Linked DNA regions of Homo sapiens: region 1 is linked to region 2. Evidence: fine-mapped expression QTL. Tissue or cell type: whole blood. Region 2 holds a variant in brackets; the other region holds the start of a gene. All regions are shown on one strand. Distances are between the middles of the regions.

Region 1 (4,000 bases), 110 kb after region 2:
CAGTTAAGTCTCCTGAATGATAAGCATTTCAGAGGTGGGAGGGAGACACCCCGGAAGGTGTCCAGAGGCTAACAATGCTATTTCTGTTTCTTGTAAGTTTTTGTCCAAGATGTGGGCCATTGGATTGCATCACTAGCATACAATGTCAGTGTAAGCAGTAGGCTTTACACTAAAGCATGTTGATGTGCTCAGAGCATTTTTGTGGTGCTGAGACCAGAGCAGATAGGGATACAGGGATGACAGTCTCCACCTTACGGAAGCCTCCTACCCAGGGGATGGAGTGAGACAGGCAGGCACACCAGTTATCCAAGGAAAGGAAATAAAGGGAAGGAGAAAGTCAGTGAAAGTGGTCAGGATGGCTGAGTGAGGGAGAAGGTGACTTGAAGGTCCCAGATAGAACAGTGGTAATAAGGTGAGAAAGAGGAGGTCTTCCAATTCCATTTCTGTGTTGGGCGGGTGTTTGAGAGTCCCACCTGGGTCTAGAGGCCTGCATGTCTAGCAGGACACTGGGTAGGAGTGGCTGAACGGGGACAACACTTAAAAAAGACAAAAATTACGGATTTTATTTCTACATGGTTGCACAAATCAATTTCACTTTCTACTTGTAAACTGCTTAAAAACCTTCATTATGAAAATGGAAGGACGAATTTATGTTCACCATCATAGTGCTTCTGGGCTGGTTCCACAGCATGGAGCCAGGCCCACCTGCTGTAGCTTTCAGAACTGCCATTTGGACACGTGGTTGAAGCAGCCTTCAGTTGGAGGATTCACAGTAATGGCATCACTGTGGGAGCTTAGAGGAACAACTGCTTGCAACCCCAGCTGCACTGGAATTACCTGGGAGCTTTAAAAACACTGCCTTTTGGGCCTCAGCCCCAGAGACTCTGACGTGACTGATCTGAACACAGGAGTGTCATGTCCTCCGGTGATTCTGAGTGGAGTCAAGGCTGTGAGACCTTCTGCTGTATAAAGGAATATTGAGAGCTGGGATTGTTAAGGAATTCTCTTAATGCTACGTCACTGGCCTCTGATGTAAGCCTGCTTTCTCGAGGAAAAGGAACCATAAAAGCTTCTGGAAACAGATTGTTTAAGAATGAGAAATTGTCATCATGCCAGGTTGCAAGACAGCTTTTAGGGCAGATGAGCTTCTGCTGCTCATTCCTTCATCTTTTCCTCCAGCCTGGATTTGTCCGGGGGCAGCTGAGGCTCAGGTTACCTCAATTCTTGAGTTTCTGAAGAGGCATATCCAGGGGTGGGTTACGAGAACAAGAGCCTGCCCAGTCTGAAAGGGATGCAGGAAGGGGCGGTGTGTACTAGAAGGAAGGAAGCTATCATCATTTATTAAAACTCTTCTTGGAGGATGGCCCATGAAGACCTCCAAACAAGCTGGAGGGGCCAGTCACTTGCTGAAGACTAGCGAAGTGGAGGGGGAAAGCCCGAGGGAGCTGCAGACTCGACCACTGCGCCCTCCCCTCCTCTCCCTGCAAGGAGCCCAAGGTGTGATCCTGCCAGGCGTTCGTTCGCTGCATGACCTTGGCCATCCTTCCATTCCCCTGGGTGTGAATTCTCATTGGCAAAGTGAGCTGGTGGGCATAAGTGGGTTTTAAGTTTAAAAATTTAAAAACCCTGTCTGCCCCCAAGTGTGGTATCAAGATTTTATAGTATGACACTTAAATTGCTTTTTTCATCCGGGCGCGTAACAGCAACAATGAAACCAGCAGATAACGCGTGAGTAGTATCAGCTCTGGGCCTGGCACTATTTTATATGTATTAGCTCATTTTTTTTAAAAAACTGTTTTCAACCACTCCATGAGATGAGTGCTCTTATGATCCCTTTTTCACAGAAGAGGAAACGGAGGTACAAAGAAATTAGTGCACAAAGCCAGTCGGAGAGAGCCCCTGGCCAGGCACCAAGCTCCAGAGGTCGCTCTGGCGAGCGTTTGCTTCGGGATCTGATGCCCTGGAGTCGCCAACTCAATTCGCGGGTCGCAGCCAGGCTCCATGGGGGTAGTAGAGCCAGGTCGTAGTGGCTAGGTGAGTTGTCTCAACTAACTCTAGTGGAGCCGCCGCAGCCCTGGAGGAGCCGGGCCGCGACTCGAGAGCGCCCGGCAGCTCTCCAATGCTTTGGAACCGGCGGGACCCCTGCGGGCTACCCGGGGCAGGGCGGTGTCCGCAGGGGTCTGTCCAGCCGCGCCTGCTCCTCCGGGTGGAGAGTTGGGACACCCGGCCAGCTCGCTCGCAGCCCGCGGACTGGCCCAGCCGAGCCGTCTCCGCCCGTTCCCCGCCCCCGCAGCGGCGGGGCTAGAGCCAGAGCCGCGCCCGGCAGTTCCCGGCCGCGAGGGCGGGCGCAGCTTGTGGCCGGCGGCCGGAGCCGACTCGGAGCGCGCGGCGCCGGCCGGGAGGAGCCGGAGAGCGGCCGGGCCGGGCGGTGGGGGCGCCGGCCTGCCCCGCGCGCCCCAGGGAGCGGCAGGAATGTGACAATCGCGCGCCCGCGCACCGAAGCACTCCTCGCTCGGCTCCTAGGGCTCTCGCCCCTCTGAGCTGAGCCGGGTTCCGCCCGGGGCTGGGATCCCATCACCCTCCACGGCCGTCCGTCCAGGTACGGGGAAGCTGGAGCATCCGGGGACTAGGTAGGGGTGAGACGGACCACAGCCTTGACACCTTCGAGTCCCCCGCTCTGCAGGACGCCGTGAGCGTCCTCCCTAAGTTGCACTTGGTTGTCAGAGTGTGTTGTGTAAGAAGGGGATGGCGGTGAGGTCTGCGTGTGTGTGTTTCTTGTGTGGAGCAAGAGTTAACGTTGTTCAGGTCGTTTGAAGGAACTTGCCAGTTGTTCTGGAGGGGGGTTCTAGGTAGGTGTGTGACTTCCCGTGTGAATGGCTTTCAGGTTTTCTATCCGGCTACGTTCTACAGGTTCAGGAGCGTCCCTCTTAGAGGTTAGGCTCAGGACCGTCAGTCTCCTTAACAAGGTAAGGGCTGAGGCCTTAACCACACTGGGGAGGGTAACTTGTTGCCCCTCCAGATAAAGGATGGTGCTAGGGAATGTAGCTACAAGCAAGTAGGCGCTGAGAAGACACTCATTATTTACAACAGTCATGCCCAGCACTTTACAGTTTATAAGCCCTTGACAGCAACTGGTCTTTTACCCTCCCTACAGTCTTGTGAGGAGGGTGCTGTCATCACCCCTGTTTTACAGCGGGGGAAGCAGAAGTTTAGGTGACCAACTTGTTGGAGGATGATGTCCTGAAGGAGGGTAAGACCTCTGCATGCAGCCCCCCTCTGTCTTCCCTCCCACTCGTCCTGCCTGCCAGGGCTTTCTCCTCTGCACTGCCGGGAGGAAGGAAGGCCGCTGGGAAGGCACGCAGATGCTGGCTCCTGCTGGGCTGTCTCTCCACTGCCTTATCTTTGGGGCAGGGTAGCTTCTCAGATGGCCACATTCCTGTGATTTAGCTTTACATTCTAGGAACTGAGGCAAGGGACACCATGAACTTGGGCTCTTGAGGTCATGGAGCAAGGGTCCATTCGTCACGGGAATGTGATGGATGTCTCAGTCGCTGCGGTTTGGTGCCAGGCTTCTGGACATTGAATGTATGAAACAGAACTCCATGACTATTGATGAGCTGAGGAAAGCCAGAGGTGGCATGGGGACGTTCACTGTCCTTTTTGCCATCCAGTTTACCAAGCGGCTATTGGCATTGTTTTCTTTCTCAATCCCTTCTAATTTATTGTGTGATATCTCATTTGATATTTCATTTAATATTCTGTATTCATATCCGATGTTAACGTTTATGCTAGACAGAAAGGTAGAGCCTTTGAGAATGGGGTTTGCTGGGGCAGGGGTGTGGAACTCTGATTTATTTTCAGTCTCTGGCTAGCTGCCAAGCTGCTGTGTGTGAAGCGTCTCCTGCACCCGTCCACTCTCATGTGGCCTCCATGCTGTTCAGGAAAGGATATTTGATCTGAATTCTCACATGACCTTGGCAGGCCCAGAGCAGCACCCCCA
Region 2 (4,139 bases):
TGAGCCACTGGTCACAAACACAGATCTCAGGACTTACTCCAGATCCACCCTGTCAAATATTCCTAGGGAGAGGCTGCAGCCTGTGACACAAAAAGCTCCTTTCACAGTGAAGTTTGAGAATGAGGGCACACATGTGAAGGGTGGCGTTTCAGATCATTTCCAGATGAGCAGGCTGGGAGAGATGGTGGTTGTACACATTTACCCACAAAAATCAGAATGTTCCCTCTCGGGGTCAGATTAGTGAGCCCAAGGAACCTGTGGTTTGTCTGGCCCTGATGCTGGGAACCTTTAAAATTTTCCATAACATGAGCCTTGTCCCTGCATGTGGCTGGCCGTGACTGATCCAGGGAACACAGGCTGTAAGTCTTTCACCAGGACTGAGAGGTGTATTCAAACAGCTGCCCAGAATATTACAGCTGAACTTATTTCTAATCTTTGTGGGGTTTTAAAATGTGAGAATCCTCTGGAGCAACAGGCTGAGGTCATGTCGATTCCTGGATGACTAAACAGACTGTGATAGATAATAGCTTAAAAATGCAGGATTCTAGTCTCATCAACAATGTGTCTGATAACACTCTGTTCTCACATTTGCTTTTTAACTTTTTATTCAGAGTCTCTTCCTGTATTTCCATAACACAGAGACGCCAAGGAGCAGAACATAAAATAGCTGGACCCAAGCAATCGTGTTGGCCCCTGCAGCTCCATTATTCAAAATTTATTTTCCTTTGCTACTTCCTTTGATCCTCATGACACCCATGCTCATTAGAAAAGGGCAGATTGTTCCTGGCTCTGTCACAGTTGGCCAACTGTGACATAAACAGACAGCATCTTAAACGCACAGTGTCCCACTGTTGGAACAAAGTTAAACCCTCAGCACTTGCCCACTTACCCTACGATGTTTCTAACAGATTTTGCCCTATCACGCTCGTTTCTCTAATGCCACAGACATCACTCTCAAATATCCTCCATGTTGGTGTGAGGGATGTGCTTTCTGAAAATCAATGCACATTTATCAAGAAAAACAAACTCCAATTTCTTTCTTATCTTGTACACCTGCATTGCCCTGTCCTCTTGTACAGTGAGAGACTGTTCAGCTCCTGATGTGACTCTGTTCTTCCCACAGCCTCCTCCACGTTCTCCTGGGGCATTGTGCTGGCCCCACTTTCACTGGCCTTCTTGGTTTTGGGGGGAATATGGATGCACAGACGGTGCAAACACAGAACTGGAAAAGCAGATGGTCTGACTGTGCTATGGCCTCATCATCAAGACTTTCAATCCTATCCCAAGTGAAATAAATGGAATGAAATAATTCAAACACAAACTCCGTACGTCTTCTCTTATGGAAGTGGCTGTGTCTTTTTGAGGGACTCTGTTCTTTGCCTCAGTTGTCTACCAAAGGTGCCACATTTATAGTGGCTTTGTAGTAAAGGACTAAAGTCTTACATTCTGTTTTTTTTTTCCCTAAAAATCAGTGACAACAGTAGATGTGCCTGTGAGTGGGTGTGAGTAGCTGTCTGCTACTTGTGACCTATTTAACAGAATGAGGTGCTCTTAGGCCTGCATGAGAGTGGAAAACATCTACATGAGTTTTGACATTCATTCAACAAAAACATATTATGAGTCTATTTTGACTAGACTCTATGGGAGATGTTGTACATACAGTGATGGTTAAGACATAGTTTGCCTTTCAGGAAGCTGGTTGTTCATTTTGAGACTGAAAAGAATAATTTAGTGCTAAAGCAGAAGAATCAGCAAGAATTGGTGAACTTTTTTGGAAAGGGCTATCCAAAAAATAGCAATTAAAAATACACACATTGGAATGTATTAGTGAACTGAGAATTAGACCCAACTTCATAACAACATGTCTGAAAATAGAAGGAAGGGCATTAAAAGAATTGTAGACAAACTGAATAAAATGTACCCAGAGCCTCTTTCATATCATATACCAAAAATAAAATCCAGATAGATAAATGAGTTCAATTAAAAAAAAAAAAACTCCAATGGCAGGAAAATCAGCACGGCTGGTGACTCCACCTTTCAGGTCTCTGTTCAAATGTGACCTTCCCAGAGGGAAGGTCCCCAGAGAGGACCTTCCTTCCTCTCTGTCCCCTCACCCTGCTTTGTACCATTGTAGCTTTTATCACCACCAGACCTTCCAGTATAGATTTGCTTGTTGATTTTCAATTTATGTTTCCCACCCAAATGGAAGACCCATGA[G/A]GTCAGAGAGATTATTTTGGTCCCAGCTGTATTTCCAGTACCTCAAAGCAGGCATTTAATGAATATTTGCAGAATAAATGAAGATGGGATGAACTCTCTCTTGTTCATTACCAAAAGACTTGCAAGAGTAAAGGTGAGTAGGCTTAATTACATTATAATTTCTGCACAACAAAATAACAAAAGCAAGGTTTAGACAAAATTGTGTCAGACAAGTTCAAGGAATGAGTAACTATCATGTGTAGAGTTATTCAAAGTCATAGAAAAGGCATGTGTCTTAGTCTTTTTGGGCTGCTACAACAAAATACCATAACTAGGGTGGCTTGTAAACAACAGAAATTTATTTCTCACAGTTTTGGAGGTTGAGAAGTCCAAGATCAAGGTGCGAGCAGATTTGGTGTCTGGTGAGGGCCCACTTCCTGGCTAATAGACGGCAGCCCTCCTGACTTAATCACCTCCCAAGGGCCACAACTCCTAATACCATTGTATTGGAGGTTAGGGTTTCAACATATGAATTTTGGGAGGACACAAACATTCAGTTTATAGTAGCATCATCACCCTACAGATGAAAAAATGTGAGTAGGGGATTGCAGAAGAGACACACATAAAGGAACTCATGGAAAAATGACACTTTCAGTAAGAACCAGGGGATGTAAATTAGAGCAAATTTGAGATACCAGTGCACTCACACACTATCAAGTGTTTAAAAGTTTTTATGAAACACTCTCACACTTTAATTCAATTTATAATTTGGTGCTGGGAAGAAGAAAGGCAACATGAGCCAAGTCAGTTGGGTGCTGGACCAGCTTGCATCTTCTTGCAAGAGCCCAGGATGTGCCTCTCTTCTTGGCTCTGTTCAGTGATGTCATGTTGGTAGCTTAAAATCTGTGGCCATTGTGGAGTCTTTACACCACAGAAATTGGCAGTTGCCACAAATCAGCACTCTCTTCCCCAGTACATAACAACAAGGTTTGAGAGATGCCCAGTGATACTACTCCTGGGAATTTAGCTTAGGAAATAATTTAATAAAATAAAATCATTAGAGATATAAAATAATTTAATAAAACTTATTACCCCAATGATGAAAAATTATGCAGCAATTATCAATTATAATGATCAATACTATAATGACCAAATTATCAAAATTGTAAGACTTAAATGTTTACAGTGTTAAGGAAATATTATACATTGTTTTGTACAATTTTTATGGTTACAATATTGACATTTGTTTGCATCTAGACAAGGAGAAAACTTAAAAACTTGGACTTTGAAGGCAGACTTTGTGAGTTCAAGTTCAAGCACTGCCACATGGTGCCTCTGTGATCTTGGGCAAATCCTTTAATCTCAAAGTACATCAATTTTCTCATCTGAAAAATGGGGATAATCACTTAGTCCAAATTAACTTAGCTATTTAGCTATATTTTATATTTCCATTTTTCCTATTTTTCTATTTCAACTATAGTAACTGTTTAATAATCAAAAACATAGGAGGAATAGACAGAAATAAAAATTGTTGTACTTGGACTACGTGTTGACAAACCACAGCCTGTGGGCCAAATGCAGCCTGCCCTCTGTTTCTGTGGATTAAGAGTATTAGGAAACAGCCTTGCCTGTTTGTTTGCAGACTGTCTTTGGCCACTTTTGCTCTTTGAAGATAGAGTTGAGTAGTTGAGATGGCAAAACCTAGAATATTTACTATTTGGTCGTTTACAGGAAAAGTTTGCCAATGCCTGGTTTAGGTGAAGGCGGTTTTGAGCAGTTAACTTTTGACCCTCGCTTTTCTATTTTCCTGTTATCATCTCCTCTTTCCTTCTTCTGTTTTCTAAGCATTCAGGGAGGGAGAAGTACGGAGGGGCCGGCAGAGGCCTTTGAACACCTTATTAGATTTTAACCGGAAAGGAGAGGAGAGTGAGGTTTGAGAAGGA

What was found. PIP is the estimated chance that this variant, and not a neighbour inherited with it, causes the effect.
Region 1: it holds the start of IL1R1, and the variant in region 2 is fine-mapped to the expression of IL1R1 in whole blood (TOPMed, PIP above 0.99).

What each region holds. Positions count from the first base shown.
Region 1 is chr2:102,140,422-102,144,421 of GRCh38, forward strand. It overlaps IL1R1 (interleukin 1 receptor type 1), which reads left to right and starts at 2,325. Exons shown (of 12, transcript NM_000877.4): 1 at 2,325-2,599. RefSeq lists enhancers at 3,188-3,482, 3,248-3,542.
Region 2 is chr2:102,027,103-102,031,241 of GRCh38, forward strand. It overlaps IL1R2 (interleukin 1 receptor type 2), which reads left to right. Exons shown (of 9, transcript NM_004633.4): 9 at 1,124-1,442. The coding sequence ends at 1,290. Among named protein-coding and RNA genes, the nearest start is that of IL1R2, 37 kb to the left of the region's middle. The variant G/A (reference allele first, on the strand shown) is at 2,218.